Linked DNA regions of Homo sapiens: all the other regions are linked to region 3. Evidence: fine-mapped expression QTL. A gene starts in region 3. Each other region holds a variant in brackets. All regions are shown on one strand. Distances are from middle to middle.

What was found. PIP is the estimated chance that this variant, and not a neighbour inherited with it, causes the effect.
Region 1: its variant is fine-mapped to the expression of ANKRD22 in whole blood (TOPMed, PIP above 0.99).
Region 2: its variant is fine-mapped to the expression of ANKRD22 in whole blood (TOPMed, PIP above 0.99).
Region 4: its variant is fine-mapped to the expression of ANKRD22 in whole blood (TOPMed, PIP 0.98).
Region 5: its variant is fine-mapped to the expression of ANKRD22 in whole blood (TOPMed, PIP 0.91).

The regions. Positions count from the first base shown.
Region 1 is chr10:88,888,775-88,893,911 of GRCh38, forward strand. The region is part of intron 1 of STAMBPL1 (STAM binding protein like 1); the gene reads left to right. Among named protein-coding and RNA genes, the nearest start is that of STAMBPL1, 11 kb to the left of the region's middle. The variant A/G (reference allele first, on the strand shown) is at 2,127.
Region 2 is chr10:88,815,592-88,820,728 of GRCh38, forward strand. LIPM (lipase family member M) reads left to right here. Exons shown (of 9, transcript NM_001128215.1): 7 at 1,225-1,296; 8 at 2,234-2,305; 9 at 4,641-4,955. The coding sequence ends at 4,910. It overlaps ANKRD22 (ankyrin repeat domain 22), which reads right to left. Exons shown (of 6, transcript NM_144590.3): 6 at 4,305-5,137. Among named protein-coding and RNA genes, the nearest start is that of LIPM, 15 kb to the left of the region's middle. The variant T/C (reference allele first, on the strand shown) is at 3,191.
Region 3 is chr10:88,849,239-88,854,375 of GRCh38, forward strand. It overlaps ANKRD22 (ankyrin repeat domain 22), which reads right to left and starts at 2,606. Exons shown (of 6, transcript NM_144590.3): 1 at 2,349-2,606. The coding sequence starts at 2,369.
Region 4 is chr10:88,799,797-88,804,933 of GRCh38, forward strand. LIPM (lipase family member M) reads left to right here and starts at 2,934. Exons shown (of 9, transcript NM_001128215.1): 1 at 2,934-3,247. The coding sequence starts at 3,101. The variant A/T (reference allele first, on the strand shown) is at 2,568.
Region 5 is chr10:88,903,191-88,908,190 of GRCh38, forward strand. STAMBPL1 (STAM binding protein like 1) reads left to right here. Exons shown (of 11, transcript NM_020799.4): 3 at 2,253-2,470. Among named protein-coding and RNA genes, the nearest start is that of STAMBPL1, 25 kb to the left of the region's middle. The variant C/T (reference allele first, on the strand shown) is at 2,777.

The DNA.
Region 1 (5,137 bases), 40 kb after region 3:
GCTAGGATTCAAGTTCAGGGCAACCTATTCAAAACTTGTAGGTTTTATAAAAAAGTATAATTTGTCTGATTACATAAAGTGATACATACTTATAACAAATTGTACAGCAATGAATAAATAAAAAGTGAAAGTCCCTCATGATCCCACCCTTGAGAGAACAGCTGAGAAAAATTCAGTAAATGTTGTTCCAGACTTGTTTCTTAAAAAATTCCAGTATACTTAATGAATACATTTGTATTCATATTACAAGGATGGAGCTATATTTTATATGTTATTCCACAGCTAGCTGTTTTCACTTAATGCTCTAACTTGGATGACATCCTGGTTCAGTACAAATAGATGTAAGTCCTTTCTAACAGTTTCATATGCTATAGAGATTCTTTATTTTAAGTATTCCTCTTTTGATGGCTATTTATTTTAAAACCATGCTGCAGTGTGTGTGTATATATTAAATGGTCAAGGAAATCTATGGGGAGATCTTAAAATTGGAATTGCTTAGTCAACAGGAATGCATATTATTTTAAAAACTGACATTTTTTTCAATCCTCATCCATATTGAGTTGGACCAATCATATACATTTTACCAATCAAATACATTAAATACCTGGCTTAAATTCAGTTTCTTAATTACTAGTGAATTTAGATGTTTATTTCTTGTGACTTAACTGTTTATATTTCTCTTAATTACTTGCTCATGTCACTTGCCCATTTTTACTCTTTTTCTTACTGTTATGCAAATGTTTCCTATAGTTTACAGATAATAAATATTATAGCTGTCAGTGGTGCAAACTTTTTTATTCTTTTACTTGTTGAAAAGATTTTTAAAAGTACTATTCAAGCATTTACAGAATATTTTATTTTAAAATAATTTTAGACTTTCAAAAGATTGTGGAAACAGTACACAAAGTTTTTATACAACCTTTACCCTGATTCCTCAAATATTAACACCTTGCAAAACCACAGTAGTCATCAAAATCAGTAAATTAACACTGACACAATACTATTGTCTAATCTACAGATCTTATTCAAATTTCACCGAAGTCCTTCTGGGCAAGGATCCTTTCTGGGATCATACATTGAATTCATTTGTTATGCCTCCTTAGTCTCTTTTAATCTGCAATAGTTCCTAAGTCTTTCTGTCTTTCATGATCTTGACACTTTTTAAGAGCATTGGCTGATTGTTTCCTAGAAAATCCCTTGATTTGGGTTTATTTGATGTTTCTTCATGAGTATGTAATCAAGAGAGTGACCTAGTCTGATGATGGTCAAAAATAACTTGCCTGAAAAAGAGATGCTTAAGCTAACACCAGAAAGATGGGTAGAAAGTGGAAGTATGAACTGAGGATGGGGTGCCTTTGCATTGACTTTGCATAGTGCATCTAAGCAACTGAAAGAAGCCAGTGGAGGAGGTGGTGTGAAAGAAGGCTCTAAGGAGGCAGTCTGGTCAGACCCAGCTTTGTGGGACTTATTAAGGTTATAGGATATTAACAGCAATAGAACATCATTCAAGGGCTTTAAGCAAAGGAATGGCAATATCTGAATCAGGTTTTTAAAAGATCACTACAGGTAGATTCTTCACCAGGTAGAATTAATCAAAGGGGAGCAAGATAGAAACAAATACAACAACTAGGAGGCAGTTCTAGCAATGCAGGCAGAGAAAAGGGTGGGGTGTACATTAAGGAGCCTCCCCGCAAAGACGGTGAAAACCTGCAGTTTTGAGAGATGTTTTGGAGGGTGAATCTGAATCTGCACATGCAGGTGATAGATTGGATGTGGGGTTAAGGGAAGGGGTAGGTGCAGGATTGCTAATATCAGCGTTTGCCAGATATTTGTGTAAGTGATTGGATGTTGGTACCATCCATGGAGATGAAAGAGACAATTCTTCACCTCTGATAGTGAAGTCAGAAGCATCACCATCTCCAATTCTTTTAGATGCCAACATTTACAATATATTTGCTTATTTATGCTTCTGTATCTCATTATAGCCACTTAGCTTCCAAGTTCTATGGTTTTTCCTCAGAATCTTTCCCAATAACTGTTTGTCCTTCTCCATTTCTTTCACTGCTCTTCAGTTTGGACAAGGGTTTCCTCATTCCAGTGTTGCATACTTGCTTCCTCTCTGGGCT[A/G]CCAATTCCTCTATTCTCTGTAACTTTATCCATCGCTTCCAGAGTATGTGTGTTTAATAAATATGTACTAAGTGCCTCGTTTGGGCAGATCACTTTGTTGGGAAGAGTTGGGAATTAAGTAAGTTAAGTATATTTCATGGAACTGGAGTCAATTCCGAGTTATAATTGAGGCAGAAGGAAAAAGGCCATTCTGCCTAGCGGTCAAGAAAGGACCATATTCTTCTTTCACTCCTTACAAAAAATAAATTCCACACAGGTCAAATGTATTTATCCAAAAATGACTAACCACAGAAGTACCAGAAGAAAAGATCAGTAGACATATTTTAAAATTGTTTATGATGAGTAAGTTTGAAGACCTTTTAAAGAATGTTGAGAAACCTAGATACCATAAAGAAAATAGGTCCACTTGAAAGCTTAAATTTTAAAAATTCCATGTAAAAATTAAACAGCTTTCAAGCAAGAATGTCAGCTGAACTAATAATTATAGAAGGAAAAATAGAAATAGAAAAATGGCCACTTTCAAACACCACAATAATTGTCTCAGGGAAAAAAATCTTCAAATGCTAAAATTAGTGGGCAATGGTATATTTGCATAGTTTCCCTACAAGATACTTTTCAATTATAAAGAGAAAAATAGTATCGTGGAGAAACCTGACCGATATAACTTAAACAAATATCACGATTAACATCATTAATAATTGAACAAATCAATAACATATGTCTCCTGATACATCATGGAGGATACACCATCACTTATAAGGTATTTTTTTGCCAAAAAAATGCATAACTCTCATTGTTTTCTGTATTTCATCTTTCTCACAGTCACCACAATCTTTATTAGATAATTGTGTAGATAATTGTTTATTATTTTTACACCTCTCTGCCCCATTCCTGGTCCTTAGCAGAATGTAAGGTCCATAAAAGCACAAAGTAGGGGCTTTATAAGTAACATTGAATAAATGAATGAATAAATAAATTTATTTGGAGCTATCAGTTTTTACAGGAAAGATCCATTTAGCCTTGGATTGTATTGAATGAAAAATAACAGTTGGGTATCCTGGTGGAAATGGATGGAGGACATTTGAAGGTACAATGCTAAAGCTCAAATTAAGCTGAAGCCATGAAAAAAAAAGGTGTCTTATAGAATAAAGATATATCAAGAAAAAAAGATGAAATATTAATATTTGAGATGCAGGGTGAGGGAGGAGAAAGGAAACACCTCCACTTCAGAGAGGCCAAGGCAGGAGTTGATTTTAAATAGGGAAAGTTCAGCTGATCAGGGCCAGGTGCTTAGTGGGGGTTTGTAACTGTTTAATGCAGTGAGTCTCAAGTTTTAATGTGCATAAAAACATCCTGGGCTGGAGATCCCTGGGGCACCCTTCCCAGAAATTTTGACTCAGTGGGGCCTAGAAATCTGTGGGGTTTGTGTATGTGTCTGTGTGTGTGCGTGTGCGTGTGTGTGTGTGTGTGTGTGTGTGGCCAGCACACCCCTCCTCCACCAAGTCATTGTAATGCAGGCAAGTTATCCAGGAACCACTCCCAGAGGGAACATGGCATCCAAATCAGGGGGATGTCAGCTCTAGGGTAGGAAGGTAGGAAGGGGATGAATGGTGAGCAAATTTGGACAGCAGATGACCACTTGCTAACAACTTTGCCAGAATAAGGAGCTCTTCAAGAAAACTCTTTAAAATGGATTGCCAGGGAAAGTTAAGAAGGAAACTTTTTTCTGTTTCTGCCTACTGCATTGAAGAGATTGTCCAGTGCAAAACCAAATGTATGAATACAGCCTCTGCTGTGACATGTTAAACAGTTAAGATTCTTGTGGTTGGAGAACACTGGAGAAGCAGTGGATGACAAGTACTTCAGGATGGCCCTCTTTTGCTTTTGAATAATAGTGCTGGACTCAGTCCATTTTGTAGAACTACTGTCCTTAAGAAAGTTATGAAAATTAAATAAAATTGATTAATAATGCCCAAGGACTAACTACATTTCTGAGCTTTCAGGCAACTGGCAGGCAGGAAAATGATGCTATTTCAAACATTTATTTGTGACTCATTATACTTCATTGAACTAAGTATCTTTTGGATAGTATTTTCTTAAAAGCAAAATTCCAATAAAAAAGGAAGTATATTAAAAGGTACATTAAAGTTTAGTGCCTTATGGGTAGCTTATCTTTAGAAATGCATTATTTCCAGGAATGTTTAGTATTTTAACAGGAGGAGAGCAAATTAGCAAGTTCATATGAATTTGTGGTGAAAAAATATCTGTGTACAAATATGAATCTCTCTCCAGCACCTCAAATTCATTTGCCAAGTGTTTTATAATGCATATTAATTGAATCATCACATTTAGAAAAGAATCTAAAATTAGCACATTGATGAGCATATGAAATGCCTTTGATATAGCACAAAAATGTAGAATTTATATTAAAAACCAGCAAATATTTTGAATTGAACTGTGTCTAGATAGAATAATTATGGATTTGAATTTCTTAACTACATATACCATGTAGTCAGTCCACAAACACTGAATCATTCTGCCGATGAAAAAAGTGAAGGGAGCTGGGCACGGTGGCTCACACCTGTAATCCCAGTACTTTGGGAGGCCGAGGCGGGCGGATCACCTGAGGTCAGGAGTTCGAGACCAGCCTGGCCAACATAGTGAAACCCCGTCTCTACTAAAAATACAAAATTAGCCAGGCATGGTAGTGCATGCCTGTAATCCCAGCTACTTAGGAAGCTGAAAGAGGAGAATCGCTTGAACCTAGGAAGCGGAGGTTGCAGTGAGCTGAGATTGCACCATTGCACTCCAGCCTGGGCAACAAGAGTGAAATTTCCTCTCCAACAAAAAAATGTGAAGGGAATGAATGTCCTTTTATTTCTTTGGCAGGGAGGAGATAATGAATCAGATAGTTGTAATGCTGAACTGAAATCTTCATTTCCACAGTAAATTTTTTCATTCTTGTCCAAGGCCCAAGGATGTGACCTTCTCTTGGATTTTCCTGATTATTA
Region 2 (5,137 bases), 34 kb before region 3:
AAGACTCAGAGTAATGATATATTCTCAGTAACTCAGTTCTCTGCAAACTGTAAGGAAATAAGGGAAATGCTTCAGTATGGACTGAAACAAGGTTAACATAAGGGCATTGCTGATATTAAATCACAGATTATAGATGGAAGAGGTCTGAAAGCAGCTTTACTACAGTGAATTAAATTAAAAAGAGCAATTAGCACATGTTAGACAACAGAGACAACTGTCATGCATCATCCACCTCTACCCTGCACTGGGGTCCTGTAGGTTTGTAGTTTAAGTTCTTTGATGGAACATCAGGGACCTTCATTTTGGCTTAGGCTACCAGTTGGTATCACTGGGTGGGTTCCCTAGGAAGCATACTCTGAGATGGAGGTTAATGTGAACAATGATTTGGGTCCTGCTCTAGGGATAATACCTAGAGAAGGAAAAGAAACAGGACTAGGTAGGTGAAAAAGTCAAGTAGTGATGCAGTCTCAATAGGAGACTTAGTTGATCCTGCAGGGATTTTTGAAGATAGGATGACCCTTCAGAACCGTCTCAAGTTAGGAAGAGAGGGTTGGGTCTTTATACACCATATCAGTCAGTCATTTAATGTAGCCATACCAGTAACAGGGTAGCACTGGGCAATGTATCTGCCTACAATTGGTGCAATCCTCAAAGCAGACTGAGAGTGGAGGGCTGTTTGCCAGCAGCACTCCCAGCAGCTGGGGCAACATTTCCTTAATTCTGAATATTTTTTCTTCTTCTTTAAGATTAATAATTTGATTTATAGTAAGGATATGAAAAGTATATATTATGTATCAGGCTAATTTATTACCTATACCAAGCCTATGAGTGTTATTAATATCCCCACTTTGCAGATTAGTATACTAAGATTTAGTAGATTAAGTGACTCACTCAAATTCACCTAAAAATTAAACTGCAGAACTAGGATTTGAATACAGGCCCAATGCTAGAGCCCTCATCCTAAATATCACTAGTAAAATTTTTTTTAATTAGGGGCCAGATCTCTGATGAGAACCTATTCTCAGATGAAAAATACCGGTGTCTGGCAATACATTTAATGACATTTTATTTACGTGCATGTACATATTTTTGTTTCATAGATAATTGCTGATAACTTAATAATGTTACCATTTCTTAGTCTGACACCCTGGAGATTTGGTCTTGACAGGGTATACATCTTGTGAGTTTTTCTATGTCCCCCAGAATACTCATGGTTTGTTACAGAGCCGAGCAAGTGTATATGCTGCCCACACTCTTGCTGGAACATCTGTGCAAAATATTCTACACTGGAGCCAGGTAAGAATGTTGAATTTGCAGTCTTTGCTAAATGTCCTGTTATATTTTGTGTAGAATAGTCAAAGGACACCATTTAGATAAGCCAGGGATTATTTCACACTTATTCTAAGATGAAATGCAGTATCGTCGATGCTATTTTGATGGAGAATTTGATCTAGATCACTGAAACTTTTCAAGAAATGGGAAGAAAGGACAGAAGTAGCCTAAGAACTTCTTTAGATCTTAAAAGTATGAATTTAGATGATCCAAGTGAGACTTCTCTCTGTCTCTAGACACCTCAAAGATGTGGCTGGAGATAATTATGTTTCTACATCTTCTCTTCAGCTCCTCCAACAATACAGTCAAGTAGAAACAAAAATGCTAATGTGGGGTCTGTCAAAAGAGATATTCACAGGAGTCCTTCACACTGCAAACTTTACCTGCAATTACAGGAAACACACACCTCTGTGTGTCTATGTGGTGTGTGTGAAAGAGAGGGATGGGGGAAGGAGAGAGTTCTCTCTGTTGACAGGTAGGGAGAGACAGAGAGAGAGAGAGCAATTGTACCATCAAAACCAGAGAAGAATTATAAGTTCAATTAAATTTTGGTTGCTATCTTCCAGGATCACCACATTGCACAATTCCAGGGCACGATTCCCCATTGTAGCCCACACAGTTGTGGAGGATACCCACTCACATTAATTACAATGAAGATGCACTTCCTGGAGTTGCTAATGCAATGATCAAGAATTTATGTAGTCCCTCTTTCTTCTCAAAAGGCCTCATTCTTGTCTTACCATTTTCCTGAGACGCTTATCCCAACATTGAATGGAAGAGCAGCTCAACCATTGCTCTCTCCTTCCCTCATGAGTGCACACTGGGTAGCACATTTCCACCACCCCACCACGCTTATCCACTGAGACGTTGGAATTCCTTGTAAATTTTTGTCTCCTTTTAGGCAGTGAATTCTGGTGAACTCCGGGCATTTGACTGGGGGAGTGAGACCAAAAATCTGGAAAAATGCAATCAGGTAAGAAAATCAAATACCATCTGCTGAAAATATATACATTGGAAATGTATGACAGGGACGTTATAATGACAGTTTATTCTAGATATGGGAATAAAATATGAAAATTTAAGCAGAAAATAATGGTTCATGTTTGACTCCATTTGAAAATGGTTAAGTTCACAGCTGATCCAAGAAACCTCTCTGCTTTTACAATGGAGTAGGAGGCCTTTTTAGCTGAGGCTGTCTCCCTAAACAAGGTACTGGGCTTCTCAGGAGCAAGATGAAGTAGATTTAGTCAAGAGAAGAGTGTAGTCTATGGTGGATACTAGAAGGATTATTTTAGAATTAAAAAAAATGGGATGGTGGCAGTAAGTTTGTTTCATGGCACAGTAAAAGGAACATTAAATGGCAAGTGAGGATTGCTGTGTAAGTTTTGCCTCTGCACTATAAACTTCTGTAATAGGAGGGAGGCTGCTTTAATTTTTCAGGCTTCAATTTCTTTACCTTGAAAATAAAAATTTTGGGCTTAGAAAATCCATAGGCATTCTCCCTAGTTATACTTTAAATGAATCTGTAATTTGCAAGTTACATTTTTTAAAAATGTTATTACATTACCCAAGAAAATATGTAGCTAATGCTATGAACTAAAATTAGATATCAAAGTGTGGAGATTCAGAATTGCACAGGTATGCCCTTTAGAACATAAAATCTTCTGAAGATTTTTGGTAATCATGTGTATGAATGTAAATAAATATTTACCATAGAAACAATACTGGAAGGGGCAGATTAGACACAGCTTAGTCTTTCTTTGAGACCCTCACATCATAAATTAACATCCGCTGCCATATGTCTATCTAGATGTAAAATGCTAGGAAACTGGACAAACTGTGCAGTGCCCCTGGATAG[T/C]GAACTCTCAATCTCTGGTATCAGCTGCTTCTCTTGAAGTCTTTCTTCACTGTTTCCCAAAATATGTCTTTAGAGAAAGTATTTCTGTTCAAAGATGTTTTTTTAATTATATTTATTTACTTTTGAGACAGAATCTTGCTCTGTCACCCAGGCTGGAGTGCAGTGGCGCAGTCTCGGCTCACTGAAAACTCTGCCTCCTAGCTTTGAGCCATTCTCTTGCCTCAGCCTCCCGAGTAGCTGGGACTACAGGTGCACGCCACCATGCTCAGCTAATTTTTTTTTTGTACTTTTAGGGATGGGGTTTCACCATGTTGGTCAGGCTGGTCTCAAACTCCTGACCTCAAGTGATCCACCTACCTCAGCCTCCCAAAGTGCTGGGATTACAGGCGTGAGCCACTGTGCCCGGCCCTAAGATGGCTTTAATTTATCAACATTTAATGGACTGAGTTCTAGAGAAATTGATTCATGCAGAATAGGCACCAGAAAATGGGAGTGGAAGGGAAGAGTAAACAAACACACAAAAAAAATCATAGAATCACAGAAACTCAGAGCGAGATATGACATTCAGTTCAATCTTTTCACCTGTAAGATGACAAAAAAAATTACTAGCCCCATAGAATTTTTCAACCTTCCTTATCCAAATTAGGCCATAACTGAGCCACAAAGAGAAACCAGAGCATCTAGGATTGGAGCCAAGACTCCATGGTGGATTTCCTGAGTAAGAAATGGGCCTTACCACTTCTGAGGAAAGTTCTGGATGCTGATTAATCTCAAGGGCTCAGCCGGCTAGGCTAATTCTACTAACACTGCATAAATACGGAAAGTTCCCAGGTATTAGGAATACTAATTGGTATATTTGGTGGGGAAGGGTGAGGAATAAGGATTGGAGCAGGTATTTAACTTTTACTTCCCTTTAGCTCAAATTACCTGAGTGCCATAGGCCATGGTTCTGGCAAATGCAGTCAAGCCGGGTCTGCCTCAAAGGCTGCCTGGGATCACATAAAGACTGTGAAGATGCAGAGCCCTTCCCAGCAGATTCCTTGCTTTTCTCTGTGGAATATAATTCTTCTTTCATGAAATGTTTGTGAAATTATCTTTTAAAAGAACAGGGGCATTATTTTTAAAAACAATTTATTTACAAAATATTTAATAGGAAGAAAAAAGAAATACAAGGCATTACATGTTTTTATGTGTTTTGTCATTTGATCTAGCAAGTTATTACAGATATTATCCCCAGTCACAGAAGAAGAAACTGAGGTTCAATAATGTTAAGTAATTTTACCTTAAAGTAAGGGCGGGAACAGAAATTCTTAACAGAGTTGTGTGGCTCTAACACCCATGTACCCTTCACCACAACAGATGGCATGTTTATTATGTCTATTTGAAACATAAATTATGAGCCTGAAAGTCCAAATGTTACCTAGAGTTAAGAACTATTCCTTTTCTCTAGCCAACTCCTGTAAGGTACAGAGTCAGAGATATGACGGTCCCTACAGCAATGTGGACAGGAGGTCAGGACTGGCTTTCAAATCCAGAAGACGTGAAAATGCTGCTCTCTGAGGTGACCAACCTCATCTACCATAAGAATATTCCTGAATGGGCTCACGTGGATTTCATCTGGGGTTTGGATGCTCCTCACCGTATGTACAATGAAATCATCCATCTGATGCAGCAGGAGGAGACCAACCTTTCCCAGGGACGGTGTGAGGCCGTATTGTGAAGCATCTGACACTGACGATCTTAGGACAACCTCCTGAGGGATGGGGCTAGGACCCATGAAGGCAGAATTACGGAGAGCAGAGACCTAGTATACATTTTTCAGATTCCCTGCACTTGGCACTAAATCCGACACTTACATTTACATTTTTTTTCTGTAAATTAAAGTACTTATTAGGTAAATAGAGGTTTTGTATGCTATTATATATTCTACCATCTTGAAGGGTAGGT
Region 3 (5,137 bases):
TTTTTGTGCTACTTCACAATGCAACAGTTCTCTGTTGCAAGGTAGCAGTAGAATGTACCTCATTGGACCTGGATTTAGTTTACTCATTCTTTCCACTAAGGGAACAGGGCACCATCCTGGTTAGAACAGTGGCAGAACACCAGAGTGGTTAAGACCAATTCTCTTATGGAGCATGACATATCTGTTGAAATAACAAGTAGTAGAAAAATTTAGTAGTTCAGCAGTGATGTAAGAAGAATCTCTTTGAATGAGTAAACACAGGACTCATCCTAGCCACCAATCTCCAGCCAATAAGCACTTTTCAACTGTGTAACTATGAGCCAGTGACTACCTTTTCCTCAGTTTCTTCATTTGTAAAATAAGGATACTAAAAGTGACTCTTACAAGATTGCTGTATTAAATGAGTTAATACATATATAAAGTGCTTAAAATAGGGCCTAATCTATAAGAAGCCCTAAATACATGTTTGTTGCTATTGTAAATATTATGAACAAATACCTTTGATAAGGGTTTAAATGAATCAGCCTTGTTTAAAAGTCCATCTTACGCAGTTGGAGTTACTTATTCAAAATTAGGGCCTCTCACTGAGCTCTAAGCTTATCCTCTAGTGCAGATTTCAGGACCAGCTCTCTGGGATCCTCCCTCATTCTCTCCTTCTTTCTTAAAAATATATATTGCATAACTATTAGCACTGCAAAGCTCTAAGGAAAAATGATAACCCTATGTCCCCAATCTAGAGGAGCTTCCCGCACTCAAATTGGGGGAAGTTTTTTTTTTTTTTTTGAATAGATTCTTCCAGGCAACATAGGACCAGGGATCCAGCAGGCTTTTTTCTTGTCCTTAATGAGTAGCTCACAATCTTTATCCTTAGGAAACACAGAGCAAATGATATATTACAAATGAGTAGGCTATGTTTAAATATTTAAGAGATTACTATTTAATTTTAAAGAGTCTCAAACTCTTTAAAACTATAGATGAAAGGTCCTACTTCCAACTTTCTACATCAGAATACCTGAGGATGAGACTAGGCTTTTTTTTTTCCTTTTTCCAAATCACATATAATTCCCACATGCAATCTGAAAAAGCAACCAAAATGCAGAATCTTAGGTCCCACCCAGGTCTACAAACTAAGAATCTGCATTTAAACAAGACCTTCAGAAGATCTGTATAGACATTAAAAACGGGAAAGCACTGGCCTGTGGCAGTCTTTCTTTCTCAGGATGGTGGTAAACAGATCACCCCTATGTCAGAACCACCTGGGATGCTCCTTTTAAAAAGTATACTTTTGTATCCTACCATAGACTGAGTGAAACAGACTCTCTGGGTTGGAGTCCCTTGAAACTGCATTTCAAACAAACTTCTCTCCCTGACACTTGGGCAGTCTAAAGTTTGAGAGTTACCAGAGTAGCATTTAAAAGCACTATATGTTTTGTCATTTTCATGTATATGATCCCTTCATGAGGCTAAAATCACTGAGCAAGACATACCTAGAGTTATAAACCAATCAAACACTGCATTTGCACACACGGAGAGATATATACACACATGGCATTAGAAATAACTGCAAATAAACTGTCTTTAATACTAGATCAAAACTATCCAAGAAGGTTCCCCTGAGCATCTGCAATGAAATGCAGATTAACCAGTTAATTGTGTCAGAGGAGAGAGAGAGTAAATTATGTATAATGACATCATTACACCTCTTGTACTCTTGTCTAAACATTCCTTGCTTGTACTTTCTTGAAACATCATTAAAAATCCATTTGATTCTAATAAGTTACTTCCAATACAAGTAAAAGTACCTCAGTATTTATCAGATGTGAAAAGAAAATAATCAAATCATCAAAATATGTTATTATTCCTCTTCTTCATAGTGATAGTCTTTACTAATATTTACTAAAGGTGAATCTCCCTTCAAATACCAAGCTGAAAGGCATTACTCTGGTCATGTGGTTCCATAAAAGAGGCAGTCAATCTTTTGGATATTTAGAAAATCCAATTGAGTACAATTTTCTCTTTTTCTCTGAGTGTTTGTCATGAGAAAAGCACAACTCAAACTCGATTTTGTCCAAATTATCCTTGCAAACATCCAGATACTATGAAATGTGTATTATATTCATCTCAACTTAGATCTAGCTAATATTTTAGAATTACAAAATACTTTGTCTTAAACTATTAAGAATATCAACAAGAATAACACATAGGACTTTATTTTTTCTGACTTAATGCTCCCCCAGGGAGTTGAACAGACAAAACAGAAATATATTAACAGGGATAGAAAATTGCATCTGAAAAGCATGAGTAACTTTTAACATCTTTGGAACTCTGCTTTCAGAAAGGTGATGTACCTCAGAGTATAGGATTCCCATGCTGGTCCTTCACAGGCTTACTTCACCTCTACAGCTCCTTGAATCTTCTGGAGGTATTTCTGATGAATATCAAAATCCTTCCTGGCTGAGAGGAAAGTCCCTAGAAGTCCAAGCTGGTGGCAAGCTCCAGGAGTGCTTTTCTAGCAAACACCTGTCAGTGCTTTTCCAGCAGCTCAGGCAGCAGCACACCTTCCAGAGAGCCCAGCCCAATGAAACAAAGGCACTGGTGTCATGTGTAACGACCCAAGCCTGTATCATCTAATGTTACAACCCTGAGGAGCCGGTTTCTGAGTCATATTTGCTCTGCCAGTGGTAACATGCAGGAAAGAAGGAAGCAAAGTTAAGGGAGGAAGAAAAGTTCTTACATTGGCAGGAAGGACTCACGGTTCAAACCAAGATACTGTATTTCAGACATTTCGTAATCAAAATCTGGTTTTCAGTGGCCATTGAGAAAGGCTAGAGACCAACAAACTTACTTGTGAGAGCCACACGTGTCTGGCAAAGAACTTGAAAAATAATCTTCAAAATTCTCAGCCTAACAAGTAACGCTTTTCCAGCTATTTATGCAGTTTTGTAAACTAATAAATTTACTAACATAATAAATCTTAAGTTGTTTTAAATATTCCAATACTATTCACACATTTAGCCAAATTACTTTATAATATTCAATTTAAAAATCATAAGTCTAAAATCAAATACTCTGTTATGCATTTTAAATTGCATCATCAATTTATTTATCAAACATGCTAGTATGCCCAATCTCTTAAATATTGTAAACATTTTATATGCTATATATGATATCATTCACACATTTTCCTTGAACTGAATACAATCACATCAAACTTTCCCAGAATTGAAACACTCGACCGTCCACACACCCATTATAACCATGGGACCAGCCCAAATGGGCCGTACTTTGTTGATAACAAATGTCAATTTACTCTGTAGATATAACAGAGCCAAAAACTGTAAGTCATTTAGCCCAGGCATGCACAATAAAAATGTTTTTGCCTCTAACAGAACCTAGAACAAATGATCCCTCCCCTGGGAACCAAGAAGACAAGGACATGACGGGAACCTAAATGCAGGACCTCTTTCAGAAGCTAGGGGCTCATTGGCCCAAAAGATCCAGGGCTGAAATCTGCCTCAACATACCTTACCTTTAGTGGTCAAATTTGAAGCCCTTCAATCAGTCCCTGCCAAACCAACATTCCTAAATCCTTTCCCTCACCCTCTAAGCCATACATTTTCTCAGATTCCAAACTGGGGAGGCAGATTTGAGCCCACCTCCTGTCTCCTTGCTGACCTGTCTTGCAATAAAGTTTTTCTTTCCTCAAAACCCAGTGTCCAGATATTGGCTTCTGTGAGCAGGGGGCAGCAAGCCTATTTGCTCAATAATATCATGGAAGAAATAGTTCAACCATCTCAAACCAATTGATGTGATTTTCCCAATCAGTTGAGGCTCCTTAGTGGCCAGAAACTAGTGACCAGGATACTAGGCCTGTGCTTATAAATATTCAGGGAAATTCTTCTTACTCCACTGGTGGATATACTGAGCTATTTTTATAATTATTTCAAAGATTTTATGTTTCACTATGCAGTTGACATCGAGGCCAGCCTCTCTGGAGTTTAAGAATTAGCTAATTCTTCCGTTGGAGGAGAGGGAAGTCTGCAATACCCACTAAAATTGCAGCTGACTTCCTCTTTGGCTTGGTTTGATTTTGTATTTCTGTAGACTCTTAAGACATTTAAGTGTCTTCCCATTGACTTAGAAAAACATTAATGGTATATCCATTGGGTACTTCACTCTGTTATGCAATATTTTGTAACCTCTGGTAGCCTCTTTTGTAACCTCTTTCAACTAATTTGTGTGGACAGAACTCTTCACTGTCATTGCTTCTCTCCTAAGGTTGCTGCTAGCTTTCTTCTTCAAGCTCTTTCCTCCCTGACTGAGCTCTAAATGTTTCTTTAACTTTCAATCAGGATCAAAACTCATTTTATTAGATTCTGCATCTCTTGACAACATCTGGTTCTAAAGGAACAGTACTCATTATAATTGCAAATGATGTAGGGTTAGCTCAAAAAACAAACCAATGAAAAAAGCAGTTGACTCATTGTTATTTGTAAAACACTTGGATTTAACTCTAGGCCATTGGGTCTCAACCAGGGGTTATCTCGCCCCCAGATAGACTGCAGATTTAGCAACGAAAAAGATAAGATGTTCAGTTAAATTTGAATTTCAGATAAATTTCTGAAATGTCATATGGGACATACATACACTAAAAAATTATGTTGCTTAATGGAGAACGTCGTTTTATTGGAAACTAAAGACATTTGGCAATGTCTGGAGACATTTTTGGTGGTCACAACTAGGAGTGGGAGCATGGTACTCTAATGTGGGGAGCAGAGGCCAGGGAAGCTGCTAATCATCCTACAGTGCACAGGACAGCCTCTCAGAGCAAAGAATTACCCAGCTCAGAAGAGTGCTAATGTAGAGAAACTCTAGTCTAAGCCAAAAGGAGAATTAAAGGTGAAGGAAGAGGACTTCGTAAACTATAGTGTCAAATTGGAATACGGAGGCATATTGTCAGAATGAAGTTGGATAAACAGATATATTTTTAAGTGTTTAGGGTTCTTCCTCTGGCAATTTTGAGCCTATAATTACAAAGACAGGTAAAGAAAAGAAGTTCCAGAAAACAGCTTTCACAGGTAAATGTCTTCTGTCAAGAAATAACACTGTCAAGAAGACAAATGTCTTCTGTCAAGAA
Region 4 (5,137 bases), 49 kb before region 3:
CCATGTTGGCCAGGCTGGTCTCAAACTCCTGACCTCATGATCCACCTGCCTCAGCCTCCCAAAGTGCTGGGATTACAGGTGTGAGCCACCACGCCCGGCCCCCTCCCATCTCTTTTATCATGTTTCTGATGCTCTCCATGGGCTGGGGATTGCTAAGGTGGTAAGGGTGTTGTAAAATTCTGCAGTGGGGAAGAACTGCACTTATTTAATATTTGCTCAAAATGTCGCTCTTTGAGCTGACTTGGGAAGTGACTTTGCCTGCTTCCAAAATGACAGTTATGACCTTATAAAGTTCCCCAGGAATTTGAGAGCCAAATTTAATTATATTTTCTCTGCAATGTACTCAGTACCCAAGGCTGCAGCTGCAGAAAGCTAAAAAATAAAAGGAATAAAATAAAAAGGAATGGGTGGGGGATTGAACCAATCAGTTTATTGCCATAAACTCTCTCCTAAAAAAGTCTCTACAGTATTCACAAGCATATTAATCTAATGCGGGAGTTGATCTTACCTGAACATATTACAGCAAAGTAATATGGTATCTGACAGATGGTATTTGACAGATGGTATCTGTCAAACTCATAATGACATCATTGGGAATTATTCTGAATTTTAAATCCAGAAGATAACTTTTTAAAAAGACAGTTCACAGAGATTGATGTAATTGCTTCCTGTTAGTAGGTTAGGCTTCATCTTTGATGGAGAAGAGGACATCGAAGTGTTATATATTTTCCCATGTAGTCATAATGCTAAACAGCAAATTAAAATATCTGAATCTCAGTTCTGGCCTTGCCACAGTCTAGCTAGGCAATGTGGGGCAAGTCATTTAATGTGTCTTCACATTTCTGAAAATGAAAGCTGAATGATATCTTTTTTTCTGGCTATATAACATTTACAAATCCTAAAATGTCAGTGATGGGAGCCCATATTCTTTTCTGAAATCTCATCTTGCCTACCTTGAGGGAGAACTCATGGGGTGCTGAAGACACAGGGCTCTGCAGAGTGTTGGATAAGTGTTTTCTCTGCTCTTCTAATTAGGTCAAATGGCTCCTCTAGCTGGCATCAGATTAGCTGTGTTAGTGACATTCACACTGGTCCAGATAAGGATGCAGACTTACCTCTTCACACCCATGCAACCAGCCCAAAGTGGAGGAGGCTGAGTCATGTGGGAAGATATGTTCTGACAGACTTATCTTTCTGGTTTCAGCATCTGGCTCCTTCACCCACCACATTCCAAAAGTCTGCATATTGGTGTGGCTGCTGTTAGCTCAACCCTGAAGAATTGATGTAATAGAGAAATATTTCACTTTAAGTAATATTTTTTTAACTTTTAACACATTCTTTACTTAAAACGACAAATAAATCAACCCTCCTGACCTGCTCAATCATTAGTATGCTAAGGGATTGTTCACATTTGCCTCACATTCAGTTGAACTGAGACATTTAGTTCATGAAAATAACTAGGCTGCAACCCATTATTTTAAACAATAGCTTTGTAGATTCTGGATATTATCCCTTAAACAACCCCATCAAAAAGTGGGCGAAGGATATGAACAGACACTTCTCAAAAGAAGACACTTATGCAGCCAACAGACACATGAAAAAATGCTCATCATCACTGGCCATCAGAGAAATGCAAATCAAAACCACAATGAGATATCATCTCACACCAGTTAGAATGGGGATCATTAAAAAGTCAGGAAACAACAGGTGCTGGAGAGGATGTGGAGAAATAGGAACACTTACACTGTTGGTGGGACTGTAAACTAGTTCAACCATTGTGGAAGACAGTGTGGCGATTCCTCAGGGATCTAGAACTAGAAATACCATTTGACCCAGCCATCCCATTACTGGGTATATACCCAAAGGAATATAAATCGTGCTGCTATAAAGACACATGCACATGTATGTTTATTGCAGCACTGTTCACAATAGCAAAGACTTGGAACCAACTCAAGTGTCCAACAATGATAGACTGGATTAAGAAAATGTGGCACCTATACACCATGGAATACTATGCAGCCATAAAAAAGGAAGCATTCATGTCCTTTGTAGGGACATGGATGAAGCTGGAAACCATCATTCTCAGCAGACTATCACAAGGACAAAAAGCCAAACACTGCATGTTCTCACTCATAGGTGGGAATTGAACAATGAGAACACTTGGACACAGGAAGGGGAATATCACACACCGGGGTCTGTCGTGGGGTGGGGGAAGTGGGGAGGGATAGCATTAGGAGATATACCTAATGTAAATGACAAGTTAATGGGTGCAGCACACCAACATGGCACTTATATACTTACATAACAAACCTGCACGTTGTGCACATGTACCCTAGAACTTAAAATATAATAAATATATATAAAAAACTAAAATACACAATAGCTGATGATTTATTTACTAGATAATCCATCTAGTCATATCCCAGTGATTAACTAGTGATTACAACTTAAAATAAAAATTTTGTGTATATCTATTTAATTGAACTAGACGAAATGGGCTAAACATGGAAGATTCATTTTCTTCTAATCAATGTTCTCACCCATCCCTAAAAGTAGAAAATGTCCAT[A/T]AAATTTTAGATATTTTAAATAAAAGCACTTATCACAACACTTATCTTTAACCAAAAAACAGTGATCATTGAAGACCCAGAATATGACTATAGAAACTTTCAGTGCTTTCTGTAGACTCCATCTTTTGCTATCTATCAAAGAAAGATAAAATCTAGGAGTGGAAGGAAAGAGGTTCCCTACACTCCTTATTACCTGGTGATAAAGTACAGGGGTTTTAATAGGCTGTATCAAATGCACAAAATTCCAGGTCACATCAAAGAAAGTTCTACACACCTGGAAGTTGAAGGATTAGGGATTACAAGTTGTGTGAGGGAGGAATGGGAGGAGTCAGATAGTATTGGGACATCCTAGGCAATGTTTCCAGCCTACTTTGTGTTCTTTCCCTACCAACTAAGCTTGCCTAATTTGCTTCAGAATTGGAAGAGGGAATTGCAGCAGGAAAATATGTGAAGAGTTTTTAAACCCACAAATTCTTCTTACTTTAGAATTAGTTGTTACATTGGCAGGAAAAAATAAATGCAGATGTTGGACCATGTTGGAAACCTTGTCAAGACAGTGGATTGTCTCACACAGAATGGAAATGTGGCTTCTGATTCTGGTGGCGTATATGTTCCAGAGAAATGTGAATTCAGTACATATGCCAACTAAAGCTGTGGACCCAGAAGCATTCATGAATATTGTAAGTTGGGATTTCTGGGAAATGAGGTACTTAACATGTTAACGTTTGTATCTGTGTATTATTTACATTATGTATTATATTTATACATGGTGGTGATTCATACTAGAAGAGCATAGTGATGAAGTAGCAAATTGTACTGGAAAGAATGCTAAACTGGATGTCAGTAGACCTGGGGTCTCCTCACACAAATTTAGTAAACTTGGGCAAATGACTTAATCTCTTTGAGCTTCAAACACAATTTAACTTTTCCTTGAACACTTTGGTTCATCCTATGAGTGGAGAAGTAATTAAGGCCTTTTAAGTTCACCCCAGTCCCTTGATTATTTCCATTTTGTCTGTACCTTTTATTCTTTTATTCTTTTTTTCCATATTGCAAAGGTGTCAGCCTTTGCTTCTTGCTATCAGGGCACACACTTCTAGTAGCATCTTATACCATTCTAATCTACTCTTTTTATCCTGTTTCTGGACTGGTACTTTGCTGAATAGCAATAAAAGGACCCCGAGTTAGTGCTACACAGAACCTCCTACAAGTAAAATGCATAAATGACAGTACATCTCTTTAGTTTTCCCAGGAGGTTTTTTTTTTTTTTTTTTTTGGTAGCTTTTCAAATTCTAAGCTGGGTTTTAGTAATGGTCACCCTATGGTAACACTTATCCCATAGCAGGGATTATGACACAAGCAGAGATACTATTCTATTTCAATTTCATTGCCCTGTGCAGTAGATAGGATCATTCACATATTTCAAATCTAGATACTGAGATTAAAGAGGTTAAACAAGTTGAACAAGGCCATACCAATGTAATAGCATAGCTACTATTTAAATTCAGGACTGCCTAAACACAAAGTCTATAATTATAAATACTACGCAATAAACCCTCCCAGGTGAGAAAGAGGAGAGGCTACCTCCAGATGAGTAAGACGATCATGTGCAATGTTCATGTTCCAGAGATTTATCTAACAAACTCTCAGAAAATGGAACTTTAACATGTATTTATACCGATTTAAGACCCTTTCTACAGAAGCTTCCTTATATGGGTTCAAAAACTGAGAGGAAATAGAAATATTCTGTATCTGCATGGTGCTGAATATCAGGTTTCTTTTGACTATTCAATGATTAGGTGGTTTGTCTAGGTAGTTAGCACATTGGTGTCAGTCCTCAGGAGTCATCCTTCTGGCCCTGAGACTGTCCCACTTGAATTCCTCTGGTTTGGAGGTGAGGGGAATCTCTGCAGTGGCAGACAGAGATGATCTTCCTGGGCCCCACCCACTGCGTGTACCCAGCACCTATACACTACTGGGGCTTCAGGAGTCTGTAGACTAAAGCCCATTGAATTGGGCTCTGCCTTTAAGCAGCTATGCCTGGAAAAAAACAAAGTAAAATAGAAAATTCGTACGATTGGTGTAAATTCAACAAAATAGAATAAAAGTAGTTGCAAGTTTGAACTGGTTCTGAGGTAGGAGAAGGGCAGGACTTACTTTCTGGTCCCAACAGGATACAGTGAATAAACAAGCACAAACCAGCAGGTGGTGAAAAAAAAACAGCAAGAACCAGCAGTGGCCTGGAAGGCATCCTTTAGTTGCCCCGGCTGCTCATTAGCATAAGACACTCCTACCAGAACCATGACAGTTTACAAATGTCATAGCAATGACCCACGAGTTAGTACCCCTTTCCATGGCAATGGCCCAGAAGTTACTGTCCCGTTTCTGGAGATTTCTGAATAACCTGCCCCTTAATTTGCATGAAATTAATAGTTATAAGTAGGCATAAATACAGCTGCCAATAGCCCATACACTGCTGACTCTGGGAGCACTGCCTATGAATTAGCTCTGCTTTTCAAGGAGCAGTACCATTCAGTAAAAGATTACTGTCTAGTATTACCGGCTCACCC
Region 5 (5,000 bases), 54 kb after region 3:
ATAGATTGATGAAGACTTTAGGTTATTTTCCAGCTTATCTTTGAAATCAGTTTTAAATTTGGGAAGGTCCATTCAGAAGAGGAAAAATCAATCTAATTTTCATTTTCAGGGAAAAAAAACTAATTATAATCTCTTGTTGCTTCCTTCTCTCACTTCCGTCTGTCTTTTATTTGATATACCTATTAATCATCACTTATGTGGCAGGGAATATGCTACATTCTAGGGAACAGAGATAAATGGAAAATGATCCCTTTTAAAACCCCAAGGAGTTCATAAGGGATCAGATACACTTGTACAGAAATAATTATAACTCAGTGTGGACTAAGTAGTAGTAAAATATGAATACATTACTTTTATACATATGAGAGGCTGGAACCCCCTTTAGAGAACATTCTGATTTTCATAGATTTTTTTTCTAGTCATTTTTCTGATGTCATTGAAGCAATTATCTGTGTCAAATGACAATATTTTCTTTTGGTGCTGTTGAGTTCTATAGCCGAGTGTGGTTAGGGAAAAGTGGATGGATTGCTGTAGCTTTTGAGACATCTCAATTGAAAAGACTATATACTGAAGCCCGAGGCTCAAAGTTCAGAAACTCCAATTTCTGTCTCTGATGTGGGGAAGCCACGTAATAAAATGTACAAGGGACATGGTATGGTTCTTACTTAATGAAGCCTTGAGAAACAAGTTTATGGGTCTCTGGTTACATATTAAACCTTTAGGACCAAGAATCATTTCAGATCTCTGAGGTTCTATTGGCTATAAAATTACCACCAAAGTAGACCAGATGGCATTGGAAGAACTCCAGATATCTAATTCACTATACCCTGTCCCTGAAGGTTGGCTCGGTAATTCATGGCCAGACTAAAAGTATGCTTACCTTGACTTCTTTTATAGCTTTCTACAGACTTGAATGAAGTGCTCCACCCACACAGTAGTCAGACTTGCAACCTACCCTTAACTGACCAAGGCGGCCTTGAGAAGCTAAATTTGCTCTAGACTAACTCTGTTCTGGGAGCATCCAGCAATGGTAGAAGGGGTTGGTCTAAAGCCTTGCTTCTCAAACTGTACAGGCATAAGTACCTCTGGAAAGATGGATTAAAACATTGATTCTCCTGCCTAACTCCAGAGATCCTGACTATAGGTCTGAGGTGAGACCTGTTAGGAATTTGCATTTGTAAGAAACTCCCAGTTGATGCTGATGCTGCCAGTACATGGACCATGCTTTGAAACATGCTGGTCTAAAGCAGGGGTCAGCAAACTATGGTGTAAGGGCCAAACCACCCACTTGCTTTTATAAATAAACATTTAGGGGACACAGCCAGGGTCATTTTTATCCATATTGTTTATGGTGACTTTCATGCTGAGAGCTGAATTCAAGTTGCAATGGAAACCATATGGCTAGCAGAGCCTAAGATACTTGCTATGTGGCACTTAACAGAGAAAATTTCCTTTCTGAAGCACCGACTTTTTATTGAATAATTATTCTGAATTGCATATGTTCTATGCTTTACCAAAAGTGTATAGATGCTGTTTTTATTAATAAAATTCAAATTGCTATCACTGACATTTCTTAGTAACATATCATTATTTTCTTAGTCAAGGACTAATTTAACAGTGTACTTACTATTATATGGAGGTCTGAGATTCTTTTTATGTTAAAAAAAATGGGAGGGGCATTCTTATGCTTGAAAAGGCTTCTCCAGGACTTACTTGTGGGTTGTTTTTTTTTTAACTCAATGAAGATGCAGAGAAGCCCTGAAAATTTCTTACTAAACAACACTTATTCTGGAATAGAATTGAATCTTTATAGTAACTTGAATCCAAGTTACCTCCTTGGAGACCCTTCAGAGTAGACTGACATGAACCCTACAATGGCAGGAATTCATCTTATGACCTGCTTCAGATGATCCCAGATAGAAGCATGCACAGGGATATGAGGAGCAATGATATTTTACCTAAAATGACCTGAAACATTTGCATACCCTGAAACCTAAAGTGAGATCCCACTCCAATAAAACTGTATGTTTACCTTGGAGGTTTGTCTTTTTGTTGTATAAACCATGTATTTTTGTTGTATAAAGCATGTTTAAGCAAAAATGCTTTACTTTGATTATATCATTAACTTATGAAAAGATTTCCTTAGGTAATGGTGTTAGGTTCCTCATAAAGAACATATGTCCATAATATTAGTCATATCCTTTTCTTACTATAATCAACAGTTAATCAGAGATTTAAATTTTGCTTTGCAGAAAAAGTTAGCTGCTATGCCTGACCATACAGATGTTTCCCTAAGCCCAGAAGAGCGAGTCCGTGCCCTAAGCAAGCTTGGTTGTAATATCACCATCAGTGAAGACATCACTCCACGACGTTACTTTAGGTCTGGAGTAGAGATGGAGAGGATGGCGTCTGTGTATTTGGAAGAAGGAAATTTGGAAAATGCCTTTGTTCTTTATAATAAATTTATAACGTAAGTGTTTTAAAGGCCTCTGAAGTGAGAAAATTGGAAAAATATTTACATAGTTATTTTGATGTGGCAGTTTGGGTATCAGTAATGTTTTCATATTCAGACCAATTGCACAGTCTCTAGGAGCATTAAATGTTCAAGTTTTTAAATTACCAACTAATGTACTCACAGGCATCCCAACACCATCTCTGAGGCTTAGGGTCAGGGAGGGCAGGAGGCTCAGGGTTATCAGATTTCCTTTCCAAGGCCAGCATAGTAATCTATTTAATACATGTTTCACTCTTCTTAAATATAATTTATTTTTTCATG[C/T]GATTTTCCCCGACAGAAATGGAAGCTTTATGAGAGCAGGAACTACAGTGCAGCTCCATTTATAGCACCTAGAACATGCCATCAACATTTAAAAAATTTGATTTGGTGGGTTGAGTCTAGGGGACAAGTTGGGAGACACAGGAAAGATCTGATTCAGGTTCAGGGATAGGTTCAGGAAACTCATTCAAGTTTCATATAGCACTTATTATTTCTTTTTAAAAAACATTTTATTTGGCTATTAAGAACACTATGTACAAAAGAGCTGTCAAAATGTTGAGTAAAAGTGGCTACATCAAAACAGCCATGTCAGAGTATCATGTTTCCTATTAGACAGATATTTGTTAGTGACATATCCTAGTTTAAGAGTTAACAGAAATGGGACTTCGTCTTTCCTTACTATAAATCTGGTAACTTACTAGTTGAAAGGATGTCCTGTCATCAATAATTATATCTTCTAAGATGAACCTTCTTTTTTTTAATTGAAAGTCACATGCCGATTACTTTTGCTAGCTTATTATTTATTAATTTTATTTAAGTTGACAAATAAAAATTATATGTATTTGTGGTATGCAACATGTTTTGATACATATATGCTTATATTGTGGAATGACCAAGTCAAGACAATTAACATATTTATTACCTCACAGACCTTTTATTGAGACAGGGTCTCCCTGTTGCACAGGCTGAGTGCAGTGGCACAATCATAGCTCACTGCAGCCTCGACCTCCCTGGCTCAAGTGATCCTCCCACCTCAGCCTCCCGAGTAGCTGGGACTACAGGCATGTGTCACCATGCTCAGCTAATTTTTTATTTTTGTAGAGATGGGATCTTACTATGTTGCCCAGGCTGATCTCCAACTCCTGGATGCAAGTGATCCTCCTGCTTTGACCTCCCAAAGTCCTGGGATTATAGGCATGAGCTACTGTGCCAGACCCAAGCTGCATAATTATGCAATACATTGTTATTAAGTATAATCATCATATACACTGGACCTCCTGAACTTATTCCTCCTGTCTAACTGAAATTTTGTATCCTTTGACCAACATCTCACCCCCATCCTCAACTGCTGGAACTCTGATAGCTACCAGACTACTCTCTGCCCCCCTGTGAATTCAACTATTTTAGATTCCTTCTACATTGTAAGTGAGATCATGCAGTATTTGTGTTTCTGTGCCTGGCTTATTTCACATATAATATCACTAGCTTAGTCAGGGGCTTAGCCTGAGAACATTTAAGAAGTTGAAAGATACAATATTTTAAAAATTGCCTTCCATGATTCTACCGAGGGCAAAATTAAAGGCAGTTTACATGGTATGCAAAAATTGAGATCTGCATTTTATTCAAGTTACTGAACTTGAAAATTTAGAGAATGGTTGGCAACCTTCACCCTACCTGGGAAAATCACTTGTTTTTAGAAAGTTAAGTAATAAATATGAAATTAGAAGTTATTCTCCACCATTGATAGCCAAACTTTTCCAATAATTTTTGTTTCTGAATAAGTTACCAATTAATAATATTTCTTTTTCACCTTCTGCTCTGATCTTGCATATGTTCCTATGGAATTGTGAGCCTGGTGAAAAGGAAAAGGCCCCTATATCTCAGAATTACTGTGTAATCAAAATATTTGAATTCTCTTGTATTATTAGTTGTATGATAATTTGTAATTCACTTATTCTTCCTGGGCCTTAGTTCCTCATCTACAAATGAAAGATTTATGGGAGAAAATCTCTGAGGTCCCCTCTGCTCTAAATGTCTTTGAATTTATTCTATTTATAAAGGCTTAGATAGCTAACAACTTTTAAAGCTTCTTTAAGCCTTAATTTTCTCATTTAAAATGGGAATTATGCTAACATTTCTGTCTAACCTATAACCTTGTGATCAGATGAAATTAAATGATGAGTATATGTGTGTATGATTTGATTTACAGAATCAGTAAGTATAAGGCATATTGTTTGATCAGAAATAGCATTTACAGCTCATTATGATTTATCAAGGAAGGGTTATTCATTCATTTTGCAAATATTTATTGAGCACTTATTATGAGCTGGATGCTATTCTTCAGGCTGAGGATACATCAGTGCATAAAAAAGAGAATTCCCTGCCTTTGTGGTAGCAGTTTCTTCACTTTACCTGGAAGCGATGCACCTGGTTTGCTGTAGGAATTTCCTTTCACTGCTGCTGTCTCTTGTTCCTCAAACGGTGACGAAAAATAATGAATTCCTAA